Regions from separate parts of the Homo sapiens genome. Here region 2 is linked to region 1. Evidence: fine-mapped expression QTL. A gene starts in region 1. The other region holds a variant in brackets. All regions are shown on one strand. Distances are from middle to middle. Region 1 holds the start of TRERF1 (transcriptional regulating factor 1). Region 2 overlaps TRERF1 (transcriptional regulating factor 1).

Region 1 (15,238 bases):
ATCAGATTACCCTACTTGACATCTCCACTTTGAGTCTAATAGGCACCTCAAACTTAGTGGTGCCCCAACTAAAATATCTTGATTCTGCCCGCCTCCCTCTCCCAATCTTTCTTCATCTCAGGAAACAGCACCACCATCTACTCAACTGCACAAGCCAGAAACCTCGGAGTTCTAGATGCTTCTCCCCACCCCACAGCAGCCCTGCCCATTCTACTCCTAATGAGCATCTCACACCCACCCACTCCTCTCCATGCACCTCCTTCGCCTCCTCCTCCACCTGCCTCTTTACTGTGCTCTGCCTTTCTCTGCTCTCTTCTCCACCAATGCAATCTTCTTAAAACGTGAATTAGGGGCTGTCGCTTCCCACTCCAAACTTTCTTTTGTTTGTTTGTTTTGTTGTTGTTGTTTTTGAGATGAAGTCTCGCTCTGTCACCCAGGCTGGAGTGCAGTGGCACGATCTCCACTCACTGCAACCTTCACCTCCTGGGCTCAAGTGATTCTCCTGCCTCAGCCTCCCAAGTAGCTGGGATCACAGGCATCCGCCACCACGCAGCCTAATTTTTGTATTTTTAGTAAAGACAGTGTTTCACCATTTTGGCCAGGCTGGTCTGGAACTCCTGACCTCAGGCTATCCACCCGCTTCGGCCTCCCGAAGTGCTAGGATTACAGGTGTGAGCCACCGTGCCCAGTCCCACTCCAAACTTTCAATGGCTTCCCACTACACTTCAAATGAAATGTAAACCTTTTCAAAGCCCAGAGAGTCCTGCACAATCATCTCATGCTGCCCTCCCTCCTTCATCCTTGACCACCTGTGCCTCTTTGAGTTCTCCAAAACCAAAGTCCTTCTGCACAGGCTCTCCTCTGCTTCATGTGCTGTCTCCCCCAACCCCCAAACCTCAGAGAGGCCTTTCCAGGCTACTCTAATGAAATCCATCCAAGTCACTGGACTTGTGGTTTCATCAGAGCACTGATCACAATTGGCAAGCTGTATTTCTTTACATGTCTGCCTCTGGACTGTAAGTGAAGTGGTAAGGGTAGGGGTATGGGTAGAGGGAGATGATTATGTCTCTTTCAATTATCAATATATTTCTGGAGCTTTAACACAGTGCCTGGCAAATAGTAAGTCCTCAATAAGAAGCTGCCGCATGTATGAAAGAAACCAGGGCTGCTTATGGCATTAAAAAAACCCTCGTTCCGCAGCCGGGTGTGGTGCCTCACGCCTGTCATCCCAGCACTTTGGGAGGCCAAGGTGGGCGGATCACTTGAGGCTAGGAGTTCAAGACCAGCCTGGTCAACATGGTGAAACCCTGTCTCTACTAAAATAAAATTAAAAGTAGCTGGGCATGGTGGTGCACGCCTGTAATCCCAGCTACCTGGGAGGCTGGGGCAGGAGGATCACTTGGACCCGAGAGGCAGAGGCTGCAGTGAGCTGAGATTGAGCCACAGCACTCCAGCCTGAGTGAGAGAGCAAGATGCTGTCTCAAAGAAACAAACAAACAAACAAAACCCTCGTTCTTTGAGCTCAGAGTTATCACTGTTATTTAGGCACACGGGTTCTTTGTCCCCTTCCTGCTCTATCAAACATATAAAAAGAAATGTTTATGTTGCTAAACCAAACCCCAACAGCTCAGCATATGCTACCCCATGCCAGCTCATCGTCTTCCATGATGAAAGACCAAGAATCATCTGTTTCTTCAGTAAACCAAATTACTACAAGCAGCTACTCTGAGAACTTAAAATTCTTAGAAAATATCACAGAGGCTTTTTGTTGTGTGTTTTCTTTAGCCCAGAAGAAAAGATTTATTAAGAGAGCCCTGGGGTCAAACTCATGTTACTGAGACTATATTATTCCTTAAAAATGCCCACAGCACCCTTGTGGCAACGCACGCCAGTAACTGGAATCCAGCTGTTCTTGTCCTCCTCTCTCCACAAAAGAAATCAACTATTCGTTAGTTCTCCTTTATTTTACTGGTTTCCCTTCAACATGCAAATTCAGAAATATCATTAATCCACAAGATCCCAGATGATTTTAATCCTTCCTCCTCCCTCAGCCACACAGTTTTATGAGGTCGGAAATAAAATGAGCTGAATTCAACCGCCTTTAGAGCAGGACCATGAGCACCATTTATACCGCCTGGGGTATAAGCCACTTGCCTAGATCCTTACTTTTCTTTTTTGTTGTTGTTGTTTTTGTTTTTTTGAGACAGAGTCTCGCTCTGTCACCCAGGCTGGAGTGCAATGGCATGATCTCGGCTCACTGCAACCTCTGCCTCCCAGGTTCAAGCACTTCTCATGCCTCATCCTCCCAAGTAACTGGGATTACAGACCCCCACCATCATGCCCAGCTAATTTTTGTATTTTTGTAGAGACGGGGTTTCACCATGTTGGCCAGGCTGGTCTTGAACTCCTGACCTCAGGTGATCCGCCTGCCTCGGCCTCCCAAAGTGCTGGGATTACAGGCATGAGCCACCGCGCCCAGCCCTAAATCCTTACTTTTCATGGCAATGTCCAAAGTCAATAAAAACATCAAGAGCTTCTCCCAAAAATGCCCATAGTGAAATACAGAGAATCCTGGTGATAAAAATGATACTATATCATTATTATGAACCTTATCACAAATATTCAGCCAAATCCCAATTACCCACAGAAAGCAGGCAAAGCCACACTGGGCTTTCTGGTCTCCAGTTTCTCCCCAAAGCTATCTCCTCCTGCTGCCTGGGAATAAGAGCTTGGTTAACCTTAGACTTGACCAAGGATTAGACAAGTTAACCAACTGGCTGGAGAAGAAACTTCTAAGATGAACAGAAATTATTTTTGGTACCTAGGATATGTACATGCTGCACTCTCTGTTAGTGCATAGAATTGAGAATTTTTTGTCCAAGACACTGGCAGACATTTATTCATAAGTATTTCCTTGTGTTTGATGGTCAAGATCACCAGGCCACTCAAGAGACCTTTCTGGAATACCAAGGATCAAATCCACTTTCTCCATGAGAAGACAAAAACAGAAGTTAATCAGCTCACCCAAGTCCATGAAGCAATTGGCCGTTGGCTCAGGAAGAGACTGTCAAGACCTCTGGAGACCTCGCTTACAAGACACAGAATTTCAGAGCCGGAAGGGAACTCACGGATCAAACCACGCACTTTTAAGATAAAAAATCCAAAGCCCAGAAATGGCTAGAAATTGGTACCTTCCCCACCTTTCTTTCCAGTGATGTTTCCCCTAGCCTTGAGCATCAAACTACTTTAAGTTCTTTGTCACTTTACCAATACTGTAAACTTAAGCCAACTATTGAACACAAGACAATTTTAACACTTCCTGGCTAATCAGCTTCACAGAGAATCCTTACATTTGTCAAAAAAATAACGCTTTCGGTTATTATAACCAACCCACCCATTAAAGAAGGAGAAAAAGAAAATCATAAACAAGCTTTATTTTTTGTGACCACACATTTTATTATACAAGCAGCAAAGAACACTGCAGTCTGTCTCCTCTTTTACACTTTAAGTTCCTAACTCAACAAAAACCACAGGCCCAAGCCGGTTATAGGAGGCAAAACTGAGTACTTTCCACACAGTTCATAGAACAACTGTTTTCACAGCAAGCTCACATAAATGCTATGTGATAATAACACATGCCTGCTATGTGGAAGCCTGCTTACCAAGCTGTGAAAAGACCCATGTTTACTATGGAACCTGCAAAATTAATCTTCTCATACAGCAGAAGGGAAATGCTCTTTTTGGGATGTCAAGCTGGCTTCTAAACAATCCTTTGGCGAAAATGGACATGCCTAAAAGGGCGGAGCCCAGAGAGGTGTGTCACTCCGGGTATCAATTCCTATAAATCAGATCCTGACAATCACCACAATATTTTAAAAAGAACGAATTATGATTCATGGGCCTTCAAGCCTTTATTACCGCAAGAACATTCTCGGTAGAAGAGGAAAAAAAAAAAAAACTACTGTGACTTGATTAATGGCCAAAGCAAGACAATAAAATAAATCTCATAAATATAAGGAAAAAAACCTGAATGACTGCTCTTGGCTCTGAGGCTAGGCATGTAAATAATTCCACCCTGGAATGAACATACATAAAGATTTTGTTTACCCTCCCAGCAAATACAACAACCAGACTCAGATTTTCATCAGGTAAAAATAATAGCTAATTTGCTTAACTAATGCCTAGTTAGGAACATTTGATAAGCAGCAATAATATTTAATTCCCAACTAACTCAACTCTCAAACTGCCAAATATCAACCCTCAATCTGGAAATCTGACGACAGTTAGGAAAGAAAAAAAGCACTCTCCATCAGCAATGTGTAGCGAGTTTTTTAAAACCCATTTTTCTCGACCCTGCTAGAACAGAGCCTGTCTACAGAATTGCAGAAAGCTTAACCAACCTCAGTTAACCCCACTGCCTAGTGGCTACTCCCTAACCCTACTAAACGTCTCCGGGTTGGACCCGAGATGCTAAAATTATCCTAGCAAAGTTAAAACTCCCAGCATCATCAAGGTAGCTGACAGCTAAGACCTACAACTCTTCTGCAGAAACCAGTAGGCTGAGGACCAAGAAAACAGAGGCAAGGAGAGGCAAAGGCTGCTGGTTAACTAGTTAAGCACTGAGGACTCCTGCTGTTATCCTCTCCAGTCAGTGAGCATCAACACCACACTTCCTATCGCCAAACTCCTTTCTTAAAAGGGTCAGTGATGCAGAAGGTGGGTGCTAACTGGGACAACTTAAAACTCCCCTTCTTAAAACTCTCCTCAATGACCTGCTGAAAAGTGCACCTGGACCGGTTTTCAGGAGATATTTTTTAATGAACTCTTTAGCCACTACAGGGGCGGTCATTCCTAAGCACGACTTCCACGCACTCACAAGACAGCCCAGGCCATGCTGAATTGAAGCCATCCCCTTCAGTACTGGCACTTGCCAAAGCTGCGTCTAGTCTGGGGAAGAGTTTCCACAAAGCTGGCTCTAACAGGCCGGTAGAAGACACACGGAGGAACCAGAAAGCGTTTTCTTGTAACCTAAGGATGGCAGGCGCACATGCTCCAGTCCAGTGCTGGCCAGAGGCTGCCTGCCAGGTGCTCTCGGCCTCCGCTGGTGAAGGAGTGGTTTGGTTGGTTTTTAATATCTGTTTCTTAAGACCACCGGCAGTAACTTCCCAGTCTCCCAAACTGAAGTTGGGGAGTGAAGGAACAGGTTTACCCCCTTACACATTTCTCCCATCTGGGTGGCCACACTAACTTCTGGGGAGTACCCAGCCCCCACAGAGCCCGCAGGCGCGTATACATACACATATGTATCATGTCAAAAACCCCAAAAGGCAGAGTCCTGCGGTTTCTTAGCTGGAGAATGAAGCCTTTATAACATCACAACCTCAAATGCAAGCCCACCATCACTACCTTTAAGCCAGGGTTGCCAATTATAGCGCCCACCTCATCCCTCCCCCTTTGCTGGGATGCTGTGCAGCCCGGAGAGGGAAGAAGGGAAGAAGGGAGAAGGCCTGCTTGCATAGTGAAAGTAAAGGGGGGGGAGACTTCTCCTTCTGTCTCCCCACTCTTCCCTCCCCACTTCGCCCCACCCCCGTCTTCTCGAGGAGCATCCCCAAACTAATTTTTTAAAAATGAAACTTAATAAGCTTCTTGCCTACCTTGGCTGTTTCTGCAACAAGTGCATGGGCAATCCGACGAGAAGACCAGTATCCGCTTGGGGGGTGAGATGGGGGGCGAGCAGAGCTGATGGAGTAATTTCAATATTAATTTATGTCAGCCGCCTTCTCTCAGCGCTACTCACTTACTGTACTGCCCTCAGCCTGTAAACAAATATCGCTCCGCCAGGAAACATACTCCCCAGATGCAAGCCCCTCTCCCCAGCAGGGAACCTGGCCCCTCGTCCCCCCGACAAGAGTGTGCTCCCCCACCCAGGGTAGGAAGCTTTGGGTTTCCAAAGCACCAACCCACCACCTCCTCCACCACCCCAGCAAGAAACTTACTCGGTCCGTCTACGCCTCCACCCTCCCTTCAGGAAATCTACTCTCCATATGCATTCAGCCTCCCCGCAGGAAATCTGCTCCCCCCTCCCCCCTTCTATATACATGCACCCCTCCCTCTCCTCCTCCCCATGCGCCCTCCCCGGCCAGAAACTTACTAGTGAGCAAGCGTGCAGGCTCTCCTGATGCTGGAAACTTACTCCCAGATATAGCGCCCGCCAGCCCCCTTTCCCAGCCCTGCTCCCCTTCCTGCCCTCCGCCGCAAGCAACTCCAAACTCTCCGCATCCAGCCGTTCTCCCTCCCCAGTGGAAATTTGCAGCGCCGGGCTGCGCGCGTGCATCCACCCTCCCCTTCAGGAAACTTACTCCCCATCTGCATGCACCGCCTCTCAGCCATCGCTTAGAGGGAAGGGGGTGTGCTGGGGAGACAGAAATACATATGTATCTCTCGCCCCTCCCCCGGTCGCAGCCCACTCGGGGCCGAGCCGCGGTAACCTGGCCTTACCTTTGCATTGCTCCCCATCCTCGCCCCCTCCCTTAACCCTCCTTATCCGCTCCCCGGTACCCCCCTTTTTTCACCCATTACCCACCCCTAGCAACCGTTCCCAAGCTCCTCTCGGCCTTTTTTTTTTTTTTAAATCCAGGATGCAAATTCCTCCCTTGTCAGCAAATCGACTGTCAAATTATTTTCTTGCAAAAGGAGAAAGGCGGGGTGGGGGGGGGGAGCAGGAGCAAAAAGAGGGGGAGGGCGGGGGAAGGGAGGGGGAAGGGAGGGAGAGGGACCGAGGAGGGGAGATATCCCTCCGCAGAGCTGGGTCTGGCCGCGGGCGGGGAAGCAGGAAGTAAGGTGTCCAGCGCCGCGACCGGCTGGTCGTCCGCCTCGGCCCCCGCCCGCGTCCCCTTTCCCCCGGGGCGCAGCGCTACGGCGGGCGCGGGCCGCCCGGCGCATTGTTCGCAGCCTTCGCGGCGGTGCGCTGCTGACTTTATTTGTGCGCTTTGCGTGTGCGTGAGGTTGCACCTTTTGTAGGCTGGCGAGTCTCTGGACGAGGATGGGACGGGGGACACGGGCCCAGTTGCGGCCCTGCGCGAGCGGGACCTGTCAGCCCTGAGGTGCAGCGGACCCTCCGGCATGGCCGGAAAATCGAGGCCGGGGAGAAGGCAGCGTGGCCGGGAAGCTGCCGCCTTAAACCCGGACCAGTGCAGGATTGCTTCCTGCGTAGCCGTCCCGGTTATTGTAACACGCTTTGCAAGCTAACGACTGGGGTTTGTGAGGGGGTTTGTTTATTTTTCTAAGTGTTTGCAAAGATGCCGAGGTCGAGGCGGGCTGCGAGGAGACGGTCCGCGCCTACCCCCACCGCACCCTGGCCTCGGTGGGGCTGGGAGAGGGCTGGGGCTCCGGAGAAGGGGCTGGAGGTTCGCGAAGCGCGCGTCTCCATCCCTCCGCCCCGATGGGGGCGGGGAAGGGGTGCAGTAGACCGCGCTGGAAGAGCAGCTCTCTGGGGAGGGGTCTCCCTTGCCGCGGCAGGCGCAGCAGGCCGGGGAGGGGGGTTGCCTAGGAGAGGGGCCGGGCGGCGGAGGGGAGGGGAGGAGAGGGGGCGCGGGTGCAGCCGCCGCGCGCGCTCGCCCCTCCTCGCGCGCCATGACTGTGGAACGTGGTGCCGGGGAGGAGGGACGGCCACCGGGGGCCGCCCGGGGCTGCTCGGCATTGGTGCGGAAACCCGAGCCCGGAGTCGCTCCCTCGCGCTGTCTCCTCCTCCTCCTCTGCGGGGGAAACCGCTGCACCCAAACCGGGAGCAGCTGCGAGCAGGGGGCAGGGCGCGGGCTGAAAGGCGAGCCGAAGGTTCAAACCTCCGCGGCGCGGGCGGGGGCGGAGGGCAACAGCAGGACGGCCCCCAGGTCCCGAGAAGGCGTGGCAGTGGTCGGCCCAGGTGTCAGGGAACCTGGCCTGAGACCCCTGCATTTCCAAGCTTCTTTCCTGGTCAGAGGAAACGTGAACCAAAGGTAGTTCAGCTAAACAGACCACCTCGAGCCGGGTTCGAGGCATCTGTCTCGAGGGCAAGACAGTATTTTTTGCACGACAGAAAGTTACACCATCCATTTTTTTCCGTGGGGGAAATCATTGCGCCCCTTCCCCCAAAATGTCGCGCAAGAAGAATGACCTCCCGCTACCCAGACCTTCGCCAGTGTCCCCCACCCCACCCCCACCCGGGCGCTGGGTGTGGATTGGGCGGAGGGAGGCTATATGGGAGCTTAAAGCATGAGGTCATGAGCGGAGGAGACTGCTGCCAAAAGCACCCGAGGTTTTTGTGTTTTTTGAGGGGTAACGGTTCTCCATCTTCAGCAGTGGAAAGTCCTCCCGCCTACCCTACCAATTCTGGGGCACGTGGACCACAGAGTCCCTGAAAAGAGGAGGGGACCCGGGCTATTTCGCTTAATGAGCGTTTGGCGCGTGCCCAGCCCTTTATGGAGCCCTTCCACATAAGCAAAGAAAGCCGAGGGACAGCGCACAGTGTTGCGGCGACTGGGAAAGGCTTCAGATGCTCGATGTCCCCCGCCCTCTTTCCTCAGTCCTCGGTCATCTTCCAAGTGGGCTGCTTTCTGCGATAGCTTCCTGTCCCCCTCCGACCCATTCCTCCCAAGCGACTAAAACTCCTAATGACATTATTTTAAAGCCTTCAAAACCCTCTTCCATTGCCCTTAGAATAAAGCCAAGTTGTGATTTCGCCTCTACAGACCTCTCTACCCGCCCAGCTCTTCCTCGGATATTGTAAGCCCCGTCAAGCTTTCTTTGTTCAAGGGGTGGAGGAGGGGGCGCCTAACCTTTCCCCTTCCACCTCTTCTTACTAACTCCTGCTGGACCTTCAAGATTTGACTCAACTGTCAGTAACTTCAAGATGCCTTCCTGAGGGTACACCCAGGTCTCTACCTCAGGGGAAAAGACCTACCCTAGGTCTCCTGGCAGCAGCGCTGTGGCCGGAGTTGGCCCCAGTGGCGGCCTTTTTCCAAGCGGAGGAGGAACAGCCAAGCTAAGCTTGACCACCGTCACCGCCCAGGGACCTGAGCGGGAGCTGGCTAGGACAAAACCTCAAAACGGGACTTGGGAAAACCGCACCACCCAGAAAACTCAGCCCCTCCACCTCCCTCCCAGCACACACACACACCCTCTTAATCTAAAACTCCTCCCCGGGGCAGATAAGGAACCTATTCGGAGAGTTAAGTTAATTGCCCCAGGTCAATGTGGAAATTCACAGCCTGTCTTTCCAGCTCCTAAACCAGAAGCTGCAGAGAAGGAAGGATTTGGGATTTGCGGCTACACAGCCAAGGACGCTTTTGTCATCTTCAAAGGACCCCCTACACCCTACACGCTTGGCCCGCTCTGTTCATTGCCAACAGAGTGATGGTAATGCCAGATGGTTAGCTCTGCAGGCTCTGACCTTAGGCAAATTACTTAACCGCTTGGTTCAGTTTCTTTGCCTGTAAAATGGGAATGATAGTATTCATATCATAGTGTTATTGTGAGGTTTAAATGAGTTATTTTATGTAAGGCCTTAGAGTTTAAAGCAAGTTACTAATATTTGTGAATAGGGTTGTGTATCCTCCCCCGCCCCGCCCCCCCCCCACCTTCCAAAGGACTCTAGAAAATCAGATCCTCAGAGTCTTAGCTGATTGAAGCATCAGAAAAATATCTATGGGGCCAGGCGGGGTGGCTCACACCTGTCATCCCAGCGCTTTGGGCGGATGAGGTAGGCGGATCGCTTGAGCTGAGGAGTTTGAGACCAGCCTGGACAATGTAGAGAGACCCTCTCCACGTTTATTATTAAAAAATAAAAAATTAGCCAGGCATAGTGGTGCATGCCTGTAGTCCCAGCTACTGAGGAGGCTAAGGCAGGAGGATGGCTTGAGCCCACGGGGTTGAGGCTGCAGTGAGCAGATTGCCCCACTGCACTCCAGCCTGGGTGACAGCGCAAGACTCTGTCTCAAAAAATAAAATTATATATATAGAGAGAGGGAGAGAGAGAGAGAGAAAGAGAGCACCAAAAGGACTGGGAAACACCGGCAGATGCACAGACAATGCATCCCTGATTTTACCAATAGACTTGACTCCCAACAATGCATACTCTTGAAGGCAATCCACAGGTTGAATAAACCAAGTCCATGAGCGCTGGGTCTGGAATCTTTCTACAATCAGGGTCAGAAGGAGGGTGACTGAAATTAAAATATTAGCTTGGATCTTTGAAATCAGAGTCAGGCTGAAAAAGTCCCAATCTTAGTTCAAAACCTGTCCTGCATGACTGAAGCCCTCCTAGGGCTGCACAAAGTATAATGGAATTATTATTATTATTATCATTAGATCCTAGTCTTACCATTCTCAGCACTTATCCCCATAGCAAAAGACCATTTTTTAATGTAATTTATTCTTTTGGAATAGGTTGAATGCATTCACATGGTTCCAAATTCAAATAAACAGCAAGAAGTCTCCCTCCCACCCTGTCTGCCACCCACTTGGTTTTCCTTCTCTGGAGGCAACCTGGGTTAGTGGTCAGAAGATGCATTTAACTGTTTTCCAGCTGAGGCCTTGTGAGAACTCCTCGGACACCAATTTAAATCTTTATGTCCAGAACTCCTTTCTCCAATCCAGGTAGAGCCACTCCCCTATCCTATCCCCACTCCCACCCTTCCCCCCTTCAGCCTCAATCCTAAGCAGGCTCTATTAACAATGATGAGCCACCATTTCCTCGAGCTACTAACAAATGCAAATGTTTAAATACTTTGTGGTTCTTTTTCCTCTTCTACATTAATTGCTAACATTTATCGAGGGCTTTCCGTGTGCCACGCACTGTGCTAAATACTAGGCATGCATATTCTTATTTAATCTGCCCCAAATCTTCATCATTATCCTTATTTACAGATGCAGACAGAAATGAAAGTTCAGAGAGATTATGTAATTTGCACCAATTTGCATCCAGGCCAACCTGAATCCAAACCCTATCTCTTTTTACTTTTTCTTTCCTTTTTTTTTTTTTTTTTAAACAGGGTCTCACTCTTGTCAGCCCAGATGGCATGCAGTGGCACAGTCTATGGAGGCAATCAGGGTTAGCTGTCAGCTCACTGTGGCCTCAACCTCCCAGGCGCAAGTGATCCTCCCACCTCAGCATCCCCAGTAGCTGGGACTACAGGTGTACGCCACTACCCCCAGCTAATTTTTGTATTTTTTTGTAGAGATGAGGTTCCACCATTCTTGCCCAGACTGGTTTCGAACTCCTGGACTCAAGCGATTTGCCTGCCTCGGCCTCAAAAAGTGCTGGGATTACATGCATGAGCCACCACACCCGGACCCTCTCTCTTAAATAGTGGCCCTTTTGCCTCTCTGCAACACAGGAAAAATTCTGTTAGCCTGCATCAGAAGGAGTGGCATGGAGGCTTTGGAGTTAAGAAGATTTAATTCAAATTATGTGTCCGGTGCCTGCCAGCAATGAGACCTTGGTAAGGTTTCTTAACCTCTCTGAGCTGGGACCATACCTTCTGCGTTGGTTTAATATAAAGGTTAAATGCATGTAAATAAATGACTTCTAAAATAAATAACATTCTAAAATGTTAGTAACAACTAAATACAATATTTAGATCTTGTGAGGATTTGATTTGAATAAATAAGATTTTTTTAAAAGACATTTTTGAGACAAAATGTAGACTATCTGATATTAAGAAATTAATCACTTTTTCAGATATGATAATGGCATTGCAGTTTTTTTTAAGTTCTTATCTATTACAGATACATAATGAGGCATTTTGAGTGAAAATATATCTAGGATTTGCTTTCCAATACTCCATCCCCTCCCCATCAAAACACTAAATAAATGAAACAAGATTAGTGAAATACGGAAAATTGTTGAAGTTATTCATTATTCCATTTCCCATATGGAACTTTCCATACTAGTTTCCCTACTGCTGTTGAATATTTGACATGTTTCAAATACATTTGAAATAAATTTATTGTCTGAGATGATCAGGTTGAAAAATAATAAAATGAAATAAATTTAAAAGTAAAATAAACATAACCCTTTTAAGCATTAAAATTAAAAATTATGAGGCTTGTTGAATTATTACTGTTATAAATAATTACATACATGTATTTTTGAAACAGTCTTGCTCTTTCACCCAGGCTGCAGTGCAGTGGCATAATCACAGTTCACTGCGGCCTCAACCTCCCAGGCTCAGGTGATCCTTGCACGTCTGCCTCCCAAGTAGCTGGGACTGCAGGTGTGCACCACCATGCCTGGCTAAATTTTTCTCTTTTGTAGAGACGGGTTTTGCGATTTTGCCCACACTGGTCTTAAAGTCCTGGGCTCACGGGATCCTCCCACCTCAGCCTCTCAAAGTGCTGGGATTATAGGCATGAGCCACTGCACCCAGCCTAACATTTTTTAAGTTAACAAAATACAATGCTAGTACATAATAGGCATCCAGAAATGGCATTTTTTGTCACCATGAGCCATTCAGGGTAGCATGTAAGTCAGACCTGAGCCCTGAAAAGAGCAAGGTAGACAGGTAATTGTTAAGGACGCATTTAATTCCACAGAAGACAGCATATATGAAGGTAAATGGCAGAAGGACTGGGTGACAGGAACAGGCAAATTAAAGTTAGGGGCTGGTTTTCCCTGAAAATGTGCATCACTGCAGAGACACCTCAAGAATTTATAGACTTGGAATCAGATGCACTGGGTGAAATTCTCAACTCTGCTCACGGTTCTGCCACCCAGTCCAGAACTGTGACTGACTTCCCTCGTTTTCAGTTTAGATGCTAGAACTCTCTGGCTCCTTCTAGTTGTCTAGACTGTCCACAATGCTGCTGGCTTTCCCAAGAGAAGGATCATTTCTGAGGCTACGCTGGTTATTTGCCTATCTCAGGAACAAATCAGAGCTGAATGGAAATGTATCCAGTCCATAATCAAACGAAACGTTTTAGGCCCAGTGAGCATTTGTATATTGTTCTTGGAGTAATTTTTCCATGCTCTGGATTTAAGCAGCTGGAATGATTTTTACATATGACCCCGTTTTGAAATGAAAGTTTGTCCTCTTTAAGAGAAAGTGTGCATTTTGGGGAAAAGATAAGACAATATATTTGGTAACTCTTCAAATAAGTGAACCCTTCTATAAAATACTTCCCTTTATATTAAAGGTGGAGCTTTGGGAGAGCTTCTTAAAAACTGGACAAACTGCAGGCATGGAAAAATAGACAAGAGCATGGAGGGGGAAATACCACCTCAGTTGCCTTTCTACCCACTGCTGCAGAATGAAGTCTCAGAGAGGCAACAGGACCAAATGAAGGGGATAGCACAAATCAAGTGTGTGCTTTAGGGATGAGTGATGGATATAATTCATGCAGTTGTTGAAGCAGTCCCAGTGATCCAGAGGCAGGCGAGTCGTTCACTTTCAGTGGCAAGTGAAAGCAATGAAACAATAGGGTTGTAGGGTGTTTCTCAAACCCTTGTTTCTTTGCCATCCTTGAATCTGCAACAACCAAAGCAATGAAAACAAAAACAGAAAATTGAGGCACAGGAGGGTTTATGGAACTCCCATTTGAAACCAACAAGGCAGCATAATTTATTGTAGTAACTTCAACCCTCAATTCTGTTAAGGATGGTATTGAGAGAGCTGGCCTTACTCAAGACCAGAGGCCTAACTGATATTTGTTTAGTAATACTAAGAGATTGCTATCTAGGGTAAGTTTCTAGCCAGAGAGAAAAATAGGTTCCAGGATATGAGAAGGTTCTCAGCTTAAGCCATATATTTTTTAATTAGCCTATTTAGTAGATTCTGTATCCAATACAAAAAACTAGAAGTGATCAACTGGTTTGGGTAACTCCTAAAACTTCCTGCACCTGCCCAGGAGGCGTGCTTGGGAGTCACACATTTCAGCTGTGGCAATAGTAGGTGGCATGCAAGGGCTATGGTGGCCCACAATAGTTCCCAGCTTCAAGTTAGTCCCAAATGAGTGGCTTTAGCTGTGAGGGTGAGGAAAAGAGAGAATTAGTTAATTTCCTATTGCAGATGCAAATCTACTAAAGTTTTAAATTGCACAGTGAGTATAGATTACAGCTAGTTTTCCAGATTCCCTAATGGAGCCACAATTCTTTTTAAGTGGGAGAGAGAACACATGAGACCTTGTATCAGAAAGAATTCTGGCAGGAAACAGGTGGTATTCTCAATAGATAACTGCAGATCATTTAAGGTAAGTAGTATTTACAATACAGTGCAGGCAGGACCGAGCTCCATGGGTGTGCAACCTGTGCAACTAGACCTCAAAATTAGAGGGGCCACACACTAGTTTAATGCTTTGCAATCCCCATCTTTAAATTCTTTGGAATTTTTAAAATGTATATAGAAATGGAAGAGTCTAGTTATGTTGCCCTGGCTCATCTTGAGCTGCTGGCCTCAAGCAGTCCTCCTGCCTCGGCCTCCTGAAGTGCTGGGATTACAAGCATGAACCACTCCGGCCGACCTTTGTAATTTTTGAACAAAGGACCCTGCATTGCACCGGCCCCACAAATTACGTGTGTGCAGGATTAAGGGAAACCAGCAAGGGGTGGTATAGCACCAAAGGACCAAAACCAATATGGAGCCTTTACCATTCCTAGTTCAGAAACAGCAAGAAAAAAAATATCTGCAATGGAGTGAAAGTGATTGCTGAAGTTGTGGCCACAGGTGTAGCTGTAAGAGAGGCCCACCTAAAAGGAGCTGTGGCCTTCAGTAGAAGAACACAACCACAGCCAATTCATAGCCTGCAGAGAGGGAGGTGGATAAATACGTATCCCAAATTATTTCTCTTCCTACCCTCTGATCTGTTTGTGCCTCCCACGGCTGAACCTGACAGGAAGCCAGAGGGTATGGGAGCCCACTGATGGAATCGATGGAGGTCAGCCTTCCAGGGCCTAGGGTACAGTAGAGAAAGGTAGCAAGTAGGTCTATAAAGAGCAATCAGAGAAGATCCAGCCCAGAACTTGTACCTAAAAATTTCAGGATCATGGTTAAGAGTAAATAAAATACAAATAAACAAATTTCAGTAAAGAACTTTACATTGTAATGATTTTTAAAGGACAGTCATTCGGCATGTATCATGCACGGGATTTTATACATTTTTAAAGGAAAAACGAGATTAAGAATTTCAAGAAAAGAGGCTTGGGTGTTTGAAAGGGTCATCACTAATGAAAAGAAAAGGCTGGGATTTCAAAATTTTTTAAACATTC
Region 2 (15,238 bases), 140 kb before region 1:
GGATATTTAAATGAATATTAATTTAAAATAAAATAAACTTAAAAATTTACTTTATTTTATTATTTTGTTTTATTTATTGAGACAGGGTCTCACTCTGTCACCCAGGCTGGAGTGCAGTGGCATGATCAGGGCTCACTGCAGCCTCAACCTCCTGGGCTCAAGTGATCCTCCCGCCTCAACCTGGGACTACAAACATGCGCCACCAGGGGTCTCCTTTAGCAGAGACAGGTTTCTGCCATGTTGCCCAGGCTAGTCTCCAACTCCTAGGCTGAAGCAATCTGCCTGTCTTGCCTCCCAAAGTGCTGGGATTACAAGCATAAGCCCCCGCACCCAGCCTAAAATTAAACTTAACTCAGCTTTTCAGTTGCACTAACTACTTTTCTTTTCTTTTTTAAGAAACGGGGCCTCACTCTGTCACCCAGGCTGGAGTGCAGTGGCTTGCTCACAGCTCACTGCAGCCTCTAACTTCTGGGCTCAGGCAATCCTCCTGCCTCGGCCTCCCAAAGTGCTAGGAGTATAGGCATGAGCCACCACGCCCCGGCCTACACATTTTAAGATGCTCAATAGCCACATGTGGCTAGTAGCTACCATATTAGACAGCACCAAATAGAACATTTCCCTCAATGCAGAGTCCTATTGGACAGGGCTCTCAGAGCAGCGTAGCTCAACCTTGGCATTTGTGACACTGTGGGTTGGATAATTCTTTGTTGTTGGTGGGGCTTTCTGTACATGGTGGAGCAGTAGTTCTCAACAGGGAGTGATTTTACTCCTCGAGGGATACTTGGCAATGTCCAGAGACATTGTTGGTTGTCACAGTTGGGGGAGTTCTTCTAGTATCTAATGGGTAGAGGCCACGGATGCTGCTAAACACCCTGGAAGGCATGGGACAGCCCCCAGCAAAGGACGATCTGGTCTAAAACGTTAGTAGGAGAAACCCTGCTCTAGTGTAATCAAGAGAACACTGCCAGTCTCAGCAGAACTGGTAGCAGGAGGCTAAGGAGGCCAAAGAGTACCCACCCCCAACCATTTGTCAAGCCCCAAGAAGCCTTCAGAACTCTGAGAAGCTACTCTCCAAGAAAGCAGGTGTCTATTTTTGCCAAAAATGCAGAACAAGAAGTTCTGGTTTCCAGAATAATCTATAAACTCATTACTAAAATGAAGTGCCTGCATTTCCAATCCCAAGGGCAAGGCAAGGAAGAAATTCCTTTTTGGCGTTGATGTTTGGAATGTGTGATAAATTCTGCATGTAAACCACAATCTGCTGTTGGTTAGGTGTAGAGATATATCACTCATTCAGTTGTGCATTCATCTATTTATTTATAAATATTTATTGAGCACCTACTATATGTTGGGTACTCTTCTAGTGTTGGAAACACAGCAGGAAACAAATAAAAGGTCCCTGCCTTTGTGGAGCAGATAGTCTAGTGGAGGAGAATAACAATATACAAGTAAGCAGGCATGTGTGCAATGTCATGGCAGGTATGATGAATGTTATGAAGGGAAATAAAGCAGGGTAAGGGTCAGAGGAGTGATGAACATGGGTGGCGCCTATTCATGGTCACCTGAAAAGGTGACATCTGGGCATAGGCCTAAATGAACTGGCTGAACCAGGTGACTCAGGGAAGGAAGAGAGTCCCAGGCAGAGGACACAGCAGCTGTGTCCTTCCACTCTTTGGTGGAATGAACTTGGTGGAGGGAGCCGGCAGGTGCGGTCAGCAAGGCAGGAGGCCAGGCTGTAGGCATGAGATCATGGAGGGGCCGGGCGCGGTGGCTCACTCCTGTAATCCCAGCACTTTGGGAGGCCGAGGTGGGTGGATCACAAGGTCAGGAGATCGAGACCATCCTGGCTAACATGATGAAACCCCGTCTCTACTAAAAATACAAAAAAAATTAGCCGGGCGTTGTGGCGGGCGTCTGTAGTCCTAGCTACTCGGGAGGCTGAGACAGGAGAATGGCGTGAACCTGGGAGGCAGAGGTTGCAGTGAGCCAAGATCGTGCCACTGCACTCCAGCCTGGGCAACTGAGCAAGACTCCGTCTCAAAAAAAAAAAAAAAAAAAAAAAAAGAGATCATGGAGGGTTGTGAGCAGAGGAGAGATGGGGTCTGATTCACTTTTCACGTGGAGAACAAACTACAAGAGGACAAGAGTGGAGAAAGCTGTTGTCGTCTTCCAAGTAAGAGAGGGTGCTGGCTTATTAATAATTCATTAATTAAACCATCAACATTAATACAAATTATCTATTGGGCCAATGCTATTACTCTTTTATTTCAGACATATCATGGGGAGACCAGGCATCGCATTCCAGCTACTTCTACAGAAAAATGCATTCTGAGTTCCATGATCAACTTGAAACCTTTTCCATCCACCTTGGTTTTAAGCTGGGTACTGTGTGGTTGGATAGAAGACAGCAGGAAAGGGAGTCAGGGATGAGGGCAGATTAACAGGAGGAAAAAAGGGCATCTCCCCTCATCATGCCCTTTTCCCCAGAGCCACCAGAGAAGAGCAGTCTGAATGGAACCTTCCTATCATACTCCTTCCAAGGTTTGTTGGGCAGCAGATAGATGAGCCCCAGCTGTTCTGCTCCAGGCTGGCTCTCCCAGAAGGATGGCACTGCAGCTGTGTCCAAAAGAGAGCTACGGAGTCTTTCTCAGAAGCGGGGAGCCCCTACTTTAGAGTTTCCGAAGATTCAAGGCAGCACTGGATCACGGAGTCAGTAGAAGTGGGGCAGAAGAATCCCCCTGTGCCGCTTACAAAACGCACAACAGGCATGTCAGCCAATCTCTCTGATCCTCGGCATTCCCCTCTGTAAAATGGAAACAACCTCCTTGGCCTCTCAGAGTGGTTATGATGGGTCAAAGCAGACAATGCTGGCGCTGGGTGTGCCGAGGTCTGGGCATCTGCACCTTCGGGAGCAGATACAGATGCTCCATCCTCCACGGGCATATGGATTTGTGCTGTACTCACATCCAGGTAATTTGGCTTTACCCATGGAAAGGGGCTTCCCTTTCATTAATTCATCGACTCCACACACATGCACTGGGTCTTAGTGCCGGGTGTGGTGTTTGGAAGAACAGTCAGAGGCAGCCCCCACTCTCCAGGAACACAAGGGCAGAGTGGGAGACAGACACGAAATAGGTTCTACCAATGTTCCTTCTCCTTCAGTGCCTGGTTGCCCAAATAGTTTTCTTGCCTTCAGACTAGAGCCACCAGCCTTTTGGGGCCTACAGATTCCCCTCATCTACCCATAGCTTGCAGCCTCGACCCTGGGGCAGTGCCCTCTGCTCATTTCCAGACTGGGAAGCAGGCCTGATTGTTTCTGCTGAAGCAGGAAAAGATGGTGAGAGAAAGGCAGGGCTGGCTGTGTAGAGAGGGGAACCAGCAGAAGTTTTGCCTTCAATAAGGCTTTCCTTCCAGCCCACACTTCCAGGACACCCACTTGTGACCCTGAGATCGCCTGGGGTTCGGCATCTCTCTGGTGCTTCCCAAGGAACGTCTTCAAGAGAAGGCTCCGGCTCTGAGTCATCTGAAGCAGAGAGGAGACCTTGTAAAAATAACTCTAAGTATGAAGCTCCTGTATTCATATTATTCACGATACAAAGAACAAAAAAGCAGGGCAGGAAGCAGAGGAGGAAAGTGTCGTTCACATCAGTTTTCTTCATATGACAAGCAGCCAGGAACTCAATTGCTAAGCCTCATCTCTCTCTCTCTGTTTCTCTCTCTTTCCTTGGAGCGATTACATAAGCTGGAAAAGGGGTCTTCTCTGCAACATCCTAACTCTCCCAAGAGTCCCTCTCCATCTGTCACCTGTAAATCTGAGCCTTCCCAGTAACGCTTACCGGGATGCAAACGTGCTCAAGTTGTGCACTCTCCTGGGATGTGGGCCCCAGAACAAGGAATTCCCTTGAAGACCCAAGGGCCTTCACTGAGCCCCAGGAGTGGGATTTCTGGCAATGTGACCATATGAGGGAGAACCTATTGGGGAGGCTGGCAGGGTTGGCCAGGTCTCTGAAGGCATATGTGGTGGGGCTTCCTTGAAAGACCTTGGATTTCAACATGTTAGGATATGTGGGCCTCAGGAACTCTCCTGGTCATATTCAGGACTTCCTGGGCTCCAAGCGGGGAGGTGCTGCAGACTCACTTCTACGTTGCCTTCTGAGAGCCATGGTCTTTATGGATCATGGAGGTAAGGACAGGGATTTTGAGACAAGGATGAGAGCCTATTAAGAGAAAAAGCAAAGGAATGAGACCGGAAGCCGGGAGAGATGAGAAATAAACAAGATCCTGGGAAACAGGGAACAGCTGGAGGTGCGGCCCTAAAGGGTTTTTTTTTTGTGCTTATCAGGCACGCCCCTTTCTGGAGAGGTGCCATAGTGGTGGTCCTGACCTCTTGTGGCTCATAACTGAAGACAAACTAATTACTTTTAGACAAATGCATGTACATATTAGGAAATGAAAACCTCCACCATGGCATGGTAAGTATAAGCTTCAGCTAAATTCAGAACCCTAGCTGATGCCAGTAAAAAGAACTATTAGCAAATTCACTGCTTTGTGCTTTGTAAACATCTCTATTCACAAGAAAACATGCTTTAGAGTATGAGTCTACCCTGATCGAACTCTTCATCAACATAAATCCCTGGTTTTACAACAAGAAGCCAAGCTCACCCGATGCTTTCAAATGTGCACAGTTAAACTAGGGCAGAGGTCCCAGCAAGCCTTGCAAAATTAAGCTCATGCATCTAAAAAAATACTGGCCGAGTGCCTCAATGCTAGGCATTGTTCTCCGTGACTGGCACGCAACAGTGAACAAAGAAGACAAAACTCCCTGCCCTCATGGAGATTTCATTTTAATAGGGAGAAACAGAAAATAAAAATTATTATAATTAAAGTGTATAGTGTATTAGATGGCTGTAGATGCTATGGGAAAAAACAAAGTAGGAAATAGTCAGGGAAGCCCTCTCTGAGAAGGTGACATCTGAGCAAATGCCTGAAGGAATAAGAACAATGAGATCTGGGGAAAGAGCATTCTAGGAGGAGGAACAGCAAGAGCCCTGTGGTGGGTACATGCCGGATGTGACTGAGGAATTAGAAGGGTGTGGCTGGGACAGTGAAAACCAGGAGGAAAGCAGTAGGAACAAGGTCAGAGATTCTAAACGTGATTTTAAAACAAAACAGAAGTATAAACTTGATGGAGCGAATAGGTTGGTCGCATAGGGTGCTTAGGAAAGGCCAAGGTAAGGAGGTGTCAGTTGAGCTGAGACCTAAATGAGCAAAGCATGAAGATGTGAGGAGAGAACGTTCACAGCAGTGGTGACAGCGAGTGCAGTGGCTCTGGCAGGGATGAGCGTGCATGTGGCAGGTGTGCAGTGGGTGGGATGAGGCAGCGTGGTAGGACGGGGTCTCCATTATGTAGGGTAGTGGTCTCCACCTGGAGTGATTTTGCCTTCCAGAGGACATTTGGCAGTGTCTAGAAACATTTCTGTGTCACGACTAGGGAAGTGCTATTGGCACCTGGTGGGCAGAGATGCTGCTAAACATCTTACAATGTGCAGGACAGTCCCTTTCAAGACAGAATTCACTAGCTCCAAATGTCAATAGCACTAAGGTTGACAAACCCTGGTGCAGGGCCTCACAAGTCACAGTAAGAAGTCTGGGTGCTCACAGAAGCACATGCCAAGGACTTTCTAATGCCTCGTGCCTGCTGGAGTGTGATCCTTACACGTGGCACATCCAGGTCTAGAGTATGGCACATTGGGATGAAAGAGAAGGGCGCTAGGATCGGCGCTTAGAGCACAGAAGCAGGGGTAGAGGCAAAGAGGCTGTGACGAGGTCACCCTAACCTAACTTGGAGCTAAGAGGGAGCTCCTGGAGTAGAGACAAAGGAGGTCAAATGAAGGGGGGCCATCGGGCTGTCTTCTAGCAGCTGATATCCTTCAAGAGACCAGGTGGGGCCCCTGGGTCAGGGTTGGGGAGAGGAACACCACCCCCCCCCCCACCCACTGCCACCCCCTAACGTCATAGTGAAGTGTCTGAGGGCTGGAGAACGCTGCAAGTCTGAGCAGTGTGGAAGGCACAGGTTGGGACCAGTGTGCAGACAGCTCAAGGCTCAAGAAGGACATCACCAGCAGAAACACAGGCAGAGGCTGAAGAGGAGGGACTTGGGTGGGGGTGCTCTCCTTTCAGGGGAGAGGACCCCCACACCTACCCTCACGGTACCTGGAAGATGCACATGAGGACCCAAGGGAGGCCTAAAAAATAAGAGGCTGTTTTGGGATGATCTCAGATTTGGTTCTTCCTGCAGAATGAGTTGTTCTCTGCTCCACTGGGGGTGGGGGCACCTGGACGTCAGGCTGCCTGGCTAATGGGTCTACACAAATGACATTTCGAGTCACAAGTTATTTAATTTCTCCGCCAAAGTCAAGAAAGTCCATGGGTCTGGGGAAGTGGCTGTGATGACCAATGACTCTGGCACGCAGTTAACCCCAAGCATGCACCTCCTCCTCCCCGCATTGCTAATCTTGATGATTCATCCAGAGAGGCTGGTCTGCCTCAGTGGAAAGAAAATCTAGGTGAGGGTCTCATTACTAAGAAATGAGAAAAATGCCTCAATGTAGAGGCAGGTCAGAACCCTTCCTGGTCACTATCCAAAGAAGCTTTTCTAACTTGGGGAGGACAGATGAAGGGGACTGCCTCATAGTGACTTTGTTCTAACAAAATTTTGGATGGCATTTTCAGGTGCCTGCTTATGTGTGCACAAGCAGGCAGACACCTTCATTAATACTCTTGAAACCACCTTTGCAAAGATTATGACAGTGACAGGAGTCTAGCATGGCTGACTCCATCTTGCCTCTAGCCTCACAAGCCAGCTGTCCTCCCTCATTCCTGGGTGTAGACCAAGCTAACCATGGGAGGAATTTAGTTTATTGTTTTAACTTTGAAGCAAGGATGATAACAGTCCCTCCCTGAAACGAACCCCCTCCTTGCTCAGGGACCAAAATCGCCTTTGTCTTGGTAATGAAAGGCCACAAGATTAGGATTATGGGAGGGGCCTGAATTCTGCTAACATGTAGGTGTAGCTAAAGGATAACCAGCCATTCCCCTCCACCGCCCCCAGCTTGCCTTTTTATAATCCCTTGCTACTCA[T/G]GAGTCATGTGGCCAGAGGTCACAAGATTTGTGACTTCCCCAATTGCTCCTATAGATAACATCACTATTGTAGAACTTAAGATGGGTCTTTTGAGATGCTTTTCAGACTTTTGCATTCTGGCAACCATCTGACTCTACCTGGACCTGGGACTCATGACAACCTGTCCTGTGGCCCCCTAATGTAGAGGCTGACTCAGCACACAAGGACCATTTTCCACACCCCTACGATTTCAACCTTCACCAATCAGCAGCTCCCATTCCCCTGTCCACAAAATTATCCGTAGAACACCCTAGCCTCTGAGTTCTCTGGGAGACCAATTTGAGTAATAACTCCAGTCTTTCTGCTTGGCTGGCTCTGCCTTAAACTGTTTGTCTACTACAATACTGTGGTCTCAGTGAATTGGTTTTGTCTGTGCAGGAGGAAGGAAGAACCTGTTGGGTAATTATACCCTCACTCAGCACTAATTTCCTCCTCAGTAGTTTTTGTTTGTTTGTTTGTTTGTTTTGAGACAGAGTCTTGCTCTGTTGCCCAGGCTGGAGTGCAGTGGCATGATCATGGCTTGCTGCAGCCTCAACCTCCCAGGCTCAAGCAATCCTCCCACCTCAACCTCTCAAGAAGCTGGGACTACAGGTGCGCACCATTATCCCCGGCTAATTAAAAAATTTTTTATAGAGACAGGGTCTCATTTTGTTGCCCAGGCTGCTCTTGAACTCCTGGGCTCAAGCAAGCCTCCCGCCTTGGCCTCCTAAAGTGCTGGGATTACAAGCGTGAGCTCCCAGACCTCAATAATTTTTAAAATAACAGTCTTCTCCACATCTAAAACATGTTCACTGTAAAAATTTTAGAAAACAGATACAAAATAAAAAGAAGAAAAACTCCATCACTTGTTGAGAATTATTTTTTTTTTTGCTAAACTTTTTAAGATATAGTTGAGATTATATTGTATACATAATTTTGAATCCTGCTTATAAAATAAGCATTTTGTCATGTTGTTAAAAGTTCTAGGCTAGGCACGGTGGCTCACACCTGTAATCCCAGCACTTCAGGAGGCCGAGGCAGGCGGATCACCTGAGGTTAGGAGTTCAAGACCAGCCTGGCCAACATGGCAAAACCCCGTCTCTACTAAAAATACAAAAATTAGCTGGGCGTGGTGGCAGGCGCCTGTAATCCCAGCTACTTGGGAGGCTGAGGCAGGAGAATCGCTTGAACTTGGGAGGTGGAGGTTGTAGTAAGCCGAGATCACCCCACTACACTCTAGTCTGAGTAACAGGGCGAGACTCTGTCTCCAAAAAAAAAAAAAAGCTCTTTGTAAATACTAGTTTTAACCATTGAATAATAATCCACTCTAACGCTACAAGAAATAGAGGTCCATATTCTCCAAGGTCTTATTTCGCTGAATACAAGTAGTTTTAAACCAGCCCCCAACACTGAATACAGGAAATTTCTGAGCACTTAATAATGAGTGCCAGGCACTCTACCCCTACCATGTAGGGTGGCTGTGGGGAGGGCTAACATTGGACTGACATAGACAAAATTTCTTTCTTTTCTACAGTCTTGGGATCTCTACACTTCACTTGGTGGAGGGTCATATTCCACTGTTTTCAGTGAAACAGCCAAGACGAACCCTTCATTCAGTTAAGAGGAAGCTCCAGGCTCTAGTTAGGCACTGGAAGTAAAGGAAATGTGGGTTAGGTCCCAAGAAGCAGAGGTAATGTGGACAACTGAAAGGCTCCAGAATGGATACTCAGGGGCTGGACAACTACAGCCTGAAGGCCAATCCGCTGCCTGTTTATGTAAATAAAGCTTTATTAGAACATAGCCACACCCATTCATTTCAGTATTATCTATGGCTGCTTTCAGCTGCAACAAGCAGAGTTCAGTAGCTGCAATAGAGACCATGGCTGCAAGCCCAAAATATGTAGTACCTGGTCCTTGAAGACAACATTGTTTGATTCCTGTATTGGGAGGCCAACCATCCTCCAAAATAGATGCTCTCCCTTCTTTGGCTAAGAGTCCTCACTTAGAAGTACTCTGAAGTGTGGCCAGCCAGAGACTACATTTCCCATCTCCTCCTGCAGCAAGGTGGAACTCCCTGACCAGTTCTCTCCAATGAAATGTGGGCCAAGTAACTTGTATCGCTTTTGGGCCAAGGTGGTTAAGAAGCAGGTGAGCCTTCTCCATCTTCTGTTTCCCTTCCACCTGAATGAAGAGTCCTCATAGGCCTGTGGCAGTGTTTCTCCACCTTTTCTTCATTGTTGCCCTCCTAAGGGGACTTTTTAGACATTTTTTTTCCCTAATTACTTTCCTCCATGACATTTTCACACCACAGATATACTCTATATCTGTTTATGTACCATGTAGATGTTTGTGATTTATGCATCAAAATGTAAGATTTTTCAGCCTCCAAGATCTTTGCCCCCTTGGGCATGATACTGCCCCCATTAAAGATGCATGCTCCAGAGTATAGCAGAGTGACAGAGGCAAGGCATGTAGATCCCTAAATTACCTTGTAGAGGAAAGCCAGTTACAACCAGAAACACTTGCATTGACTGTTACAAGGGCAAGAAATAAACTTCCTTCATGTTAAACTCCTGAAATGTGGGAGATGATTACAGCAGCTAATGTTGCCCTAACCAATACAAGCTTTTAATTTGATTGTTAAAAAAAGTATGAGCCTGGCACACTGGCTCATGCCTGTGATCCCAGCATTTTGGGGGGCTGAGGCAGGAGGATCACTTGAGCCCAGGAGTTCGAAACTAGGCTGAACAACATAGGGAAACCCCATGTCTACAAAAAAATGTAAAAATTAACTGGGTGTGATGGTGTGTGCCTGTGGTCCCAGCTACCTGGGAGGCTGAGGTGGAAGGATTGCTTGAGCCTGGGAGGTCAAGGCCATGATTGTGCCACTGCACTCCAGCCTGGGTGACAGAGTGAGACTGTGTTTCAAAAAAAAAAAAAAAAAATGGTGCATTCAATAGACATATAATAATATAATGCTATATATTATATTAAATACATTATATCATTATTATTTTTTGTTTGTTTTTGTTTTGAGATGGAGTCTCACTTTGTCTCCCAGGCTGGAGTGCAGTGGTGTGATCTCAGCTCACTGCAACCTCTGCCTCCTGGGTTCAAGCAATTCTTCTGCTTCAGCCTCCCGAATAGCTGGGATTACAGACACCCATCACTATGCCCAGCTAATTTTTGTATTTTAGTAGAGATGGGGTTTCACCATGTTGGCCAGGCTGGCCTCGAACTCCTGACCTCAAATGATCCACCTGGCGGCCTCCCAAAGTACTGGGATTACAGGCATGAGCCACCGCACCCAGCCATAACTAAATTATATTATATTATTATATGTCTATTCAATCAAACTTTTAATCCTAAATATACTCCTTTAGGGTTTAGGACAGGTTTCCTAAATCCTAAAGGGGTAAATTTAGGATTAAAAGTTCCTACTTTAGGTGGTGGAGCGTTTAGCCTATTGGCTCTTACATTGACATAGGACAACAATTTAAACAGATTCAAGAAGGGTTGAGATCAATTCTGAGCACAACCTATTAAAGACGAATACGTTAACTGTATTCATTTATACCCTCTCCATTTGAACACATCACTACCAAAACAAAAGTGAAAGAATTTTTTTTTTTTTTTTTGAGACTGAGTCTCGCTCTTTTGCCCAGGCTGGAGTGCAGTGGCATGATCTTGGCTCACTGCTACCTCCTCCTCCTCCCAGGTTCAAGCAATTCTCCCTACCTCAGCCTCCTGAGTAGCAAGGATTACAGGCGCCCGCCACAACGTCCGGCTAATTTTTGTATTTTTTAGTAGAGATGGGATTTCGCCATGTTGGCGAGGCTGTCTTAAACTCCTGACCTCAGGTGATCCACCTGCCTCGGCCTCCCAAAGTGCTGGAATTACATGCGTAAGCCACCGCACCTGGCCTAATAATTTTTTTTAAAAGGCATAACTTCAACAATAAAGGGAACAGGTGAGGGCTACCCAGGACAGAGATTGGGACAACTTTGTGGAAAACAGACAGAATATGGAAGATTAGAAACTGATGATGCAAGCACAGGAAGCCTGAGCTCCAGCGCTCAAATATTATGAGATTCCATTAGCCTGGCAAAATGGCCACAGGCTCATGACTCAGAGACGCCAGAACAACGGAGGGCAGGAATCAGATAGGAGGCTGAAAAGGGGGGAATTTTATAAAATCTGAAGTCAGAAGATTTGCACCCTTCATAGGTGGCTCATGAGGCAGCCAGGTTATCTATTCTTCCAAGCCAAAAAAAAAAAAAAAGGCATTTTCTTCTCTGGAGAAACTGAACTAACCAGCCCCAACCCTGAGACCCCCCTAAACCCCACCCTGAAAAAAACATTTGAGATCCAGGAAGCAGTAGAACCAATCTAGTAAAGTAGTAGAGGAAATCTCAGGTGACAGCTCTGTAGCAGACCTAGAATGAAATCAAATTTGAGAAGAATAGAGGACCCTGGGAGAAAGGGATATATAAAATACCCAACTGGCTAGAGAGTTTGAGAGAAAAAAAATGAGGATATAATAACAGCAAAGTTTTTAAAAAAAAGGCAATGAGAAAGTCTTGGAAAAATTAAAGCTGTAAAAGAAAGTATCCATAGTATATTACTTGGCTCCAAAGAGAATAACACATCAAGCATCAGGGTCACACACTTAAATGCCTTCAGCGTCATGCAAGTAAGTAAATAAATGAGCAAGTCAGGTATTGGAACACTTGCATATACTGCGAGTGGTAGGAACTGTGGCAAACTAGAGTAGGAATGCCTATTCTAAAGGGGACAGACTCCAGCAGAGTGTTACTATATGTGGGAAGTCAGACCATATGTGCCAGAACTTCCAATTTTTAAAACAAAACCCCAAACTCTAAATCTTTTATAAAAAAAACTCTACCAATTTTTAAATGTTGGCTGTAAGCCTAAAAAAAAATCACTAGGCAAATCAAACAAGTATGTCCAATGGTGGATTGTCAATGTGCAACTTGTCATTTATGCAATCACAATAGCATAAGCCCTATCTGCTAGTTTTTCAGCCTTTAAGATCAACCTGTAGATAAAGCATAAAAGACTGAATGGCAGCTACAAAATAAAAATGTAAATGTTTTCAATCTTAACAATGTAAAAGTAAAAGCAGAGATGACAGAAGTTGGAAAGTAGAAGGCAAATTAGGTAAGAACGCAAATACTGCCATTTTACTGCACCGGGACTCAGGAAGTACTGTTGTTAAGAAACAAGAAATATGATAGTAAGAATCTTACTTATAAAGGTAACTAAGCAGAGGAACTATAAATAATAATACAACTTTGTTGTGAGGATGTGGGGAGGAGAGGTAGAGGGATGGTATAAGGGAGTTAAGTTGTTATCTATCATAACAGAAAGTCAACAAGTAATTTCTAAAATAGGAGTAAAATTAAAGCACATTATTGAAAATATGGAGGTAAATGCCATAAACTAAACTAAAATAAAATAAAATTGAGTTAAAAGTGCCTCCAAGCAGTAGGTCTGGGTTAGGAAGGGAAGGGGCCAGGAGACTAATTTTTATTATAAATTCCTCCGAATGCAAACCCCCTGCCCCAAATAAAGCAAAATGCCCTTTTCAAGAAAATAACACAGATCAATTCGTGGGGTTGTATATTGGGACAGATAACTAAGCCTGCTAAGCTTGACTCTCAGATACTATAGAGAACGATCAAAAGAGTTTAAATAAAAATAATTTAATAAATGAACAAGTTATAGAGGTGTGGGGAGGATTAAGGCAACCAGCAATATATGGTGCAGCATGCAGAGACTAAGTATGAGACTAAGTATGAAGGGCAAGAAGGCAGAACAGTGTTACTGTAGCCCAATGCATCTGGAGGACTGGAGCTGTAGCTGTAAAAGATAGCCGTTGCCAGAAAACTGATGAGGCTGAGAGGAAGCAGGGGGATTAACGCTCCCTGCTTTCTGCCTATTCTTGGATCTCCTACTGGTGCCTCCTACTGGCCAAACCCAACCACACCTGGAAGGTAAAGTAAAGGAGCCTAGTTGACACAATCCACTGAGGTTGGTCTCCCAGGCCACAGCAGGGCAGAGAATGGCACTGGGAGGGGGTGGGGGGCAAGCAGAGGATAACTAGCACCTATTCTCACACTCTCCATTATCCTGCCCTCTCCATTGCCTATCTGAATGAAAAAAAAAAATGGATTCAACAAAACATGTATTTGTCTAAGAGTGGTAAATACTGACCTCCTCTAGTTCAGCAGCAGAACTAAGGAACTGTCAGGAAGAGTTGATAAAGGAGGTGCAACTTTCCCCCAGTTTTTTTTTTTTTTTTCCTTTTGAGATGGAGTCTCGCTCTGTCGCCCAGGCTGGAGTGCAGTGGTGTGATCTCGGCTCACTGCAACCTCTGCCTCCTGGGTTCAAACGATTCTTCTGCCTCAGTCTCCCAAGTAGCTGGGATTACAGGCATGCACCACCACGCCCGGCTAATTTTTGTATTTTTAGTAGAGACGGGGTTTAACCATATTGGCCAGGCTGGTCTCAAACTCCTGACCTCGTGATCCACCTGCCTCGGCCTCCCAAAGTGCTGGGATTACAGGTGTGAGCCACCGCGCCTGGCCTCCCCCAGTTTTCATTAGGGATACTGATGGATAACTTCCATAGGTCAGCCCTGCATTCTATCATGGGAGAGAGGAAAGATACCTATGAAGCAATAATCCCAGCAATTTGACAATAGGGAAGGTGAGACAACCATGGAGAAAGACCAGGGTACAAGGTAGCATGATAAGCACCCAGTGAAAAAGTGCAATAATAGGTGCCTCCAAGCCCCAAAACCAGGAGGCAACATGTCTTAGCAGGTTTTCCTAAGCAGGTAAGCATTGGTTGGCCCCGAAGGTTGAGTGGAATTAGACAGGAGGAGGCAGCCAGTGAGACATGTTTAGGGACAGCGAGCAGGTCTACCTGGCCACAGGAGGAGTGAGAGATGGGCTGTTTGCCAGGCCAGGGTAGTGCAATGGGGGAGATCTAAATGCCAGGCTCAGGAGTTGGAACTTTATTTCAGAACAGATTGTTGCCAAAGTTTTCTGATCAAGTGACATGTTTGAGGCAACAGGGACATTACATGGATGGGATGTGCTTGGCATTTGTTGAACCAACATCAAAGAGAAGGTAGAGACATAAAGTGGGAGACTTGCTAATCTTGGTATTCCCACAGCCTAGCACAGGGTCTGTTCCATAATTAGTGCCCAGAAAGAGCCAAATCAAGAATGCAATCCCGTTTACAACAGTCCACCCACCCAAATACCCAGGAATACATCTAACAAAGGAGGTGAAATATCTCTACAAGAACTACAAAACATTGCTGAACAAAATTATAGATGACACAAACAAATGAAAAAACATTCCATGCTCTTGAATCAGAAGAATCAATATCATTAAAATGTCCATACTGCCTAAAGCAATCTATAGACTCAATGCTATTCTTATCAAATGGCCAACATCATTTTTCACAGAATTTGAAAAAACTATTGTAAAATTCATATGGAACCAAAATAAGCCCAAATAGCCAAAGCAATCCTAAGCAAAAAGAACAAAGCTGAAGGCATCACATTACCTTACTTCAAACTATACTACAAGGCTATAGTAACCAAAACAATGTGGTACTGGTACAAAAACAGATACATAGATCAATGGAAGAGAAGAGAAAACCCAGAAATAAAGCCACACACCTACAACCAACTGATCTTCAACAAAGTCGACAAAAATAACAATGGGGAAAGAACTCCCTATTCAATAAATAGTGCTCAGAAAACTAGCTAACCATATGCAGAAGATTAAAACTGGACCCCTATTTATCACTATATACAAAAATTAACTCAAGATGGATTAAAGACTTAAATGTAAGACCTAAAACTATAAAAATCCTAGAAGAAAACCTAGGAAATAGTCATCTGGACGTCAGCCTTGGAAAAGAATTTATGACTAAGCCCTCAAGAGCAATTGCAAGAAAAATGAAAATTGACAAGTAGGGCCTAATTAAACTAAGGAGCTTCTGCACAACAAAAGAAACTATCAACAGAGTGAACAGAC

The links.
Region 2: its variant is fine-mapped to the expression of TRERF1 in whole blood (INTERVAL, PIP 0.97).

The regions. Positions count from the first base shown.
Region 1 is chr6:42,445,523-42,460,760 of GRCh38, forward strand. It overlaps TRERF1 (transcriptional regulating factor 1), which reads right to left and starts at 6,404. Exons shown (of 18, transcript NM_001395490.1): 1 at 6,152-6,404; 2 at 5,655-5,739. It overlaps LOC124900214 (arf-GAP with GTPase, ANK repeat and PH domain-containing protein 2-like), which reads left to right and starts at 6,838. Exons shown (of 4, transcript XM_047419627.1): 1 at 6,838-8,760; 2 at 9,258-9,393; 3 at 10,423-10,632; 4 at 11,214-11,662. The coding sequence starts at 7,299. The coding sequence ends at 8,396. LOC107986596 (a long non-coding RNA gene) reads left to right here and starts at 6,838. Exons shown (of 5, transcript NR_171668.1): 1 at 6,838-7,103; 2 at 8,695-8,760; 3 at 9,258-9,393; 4 at 10,423-10,632; 5 at 11,214-11,662. RefSeq lists silencers at 6,869-6,948, 7,419-7,858.
Region 2 is chr6:42,309,727-42,324,964 of GRCh38, forward strand. The region is part of intron 3 of TRERF1 (transcriptional regulating factor 1); the gene reads right to left. Among named protein-coding and RNA genes, the nearest start is that of MRPS10, 99 kb to the left of the region's middle. RefSeq lists enhancers at 5,538-6,205, 6,274-6,333, 6,924-7,013. The variant T/G (reference allele first, on the strand shown) is at 7,141.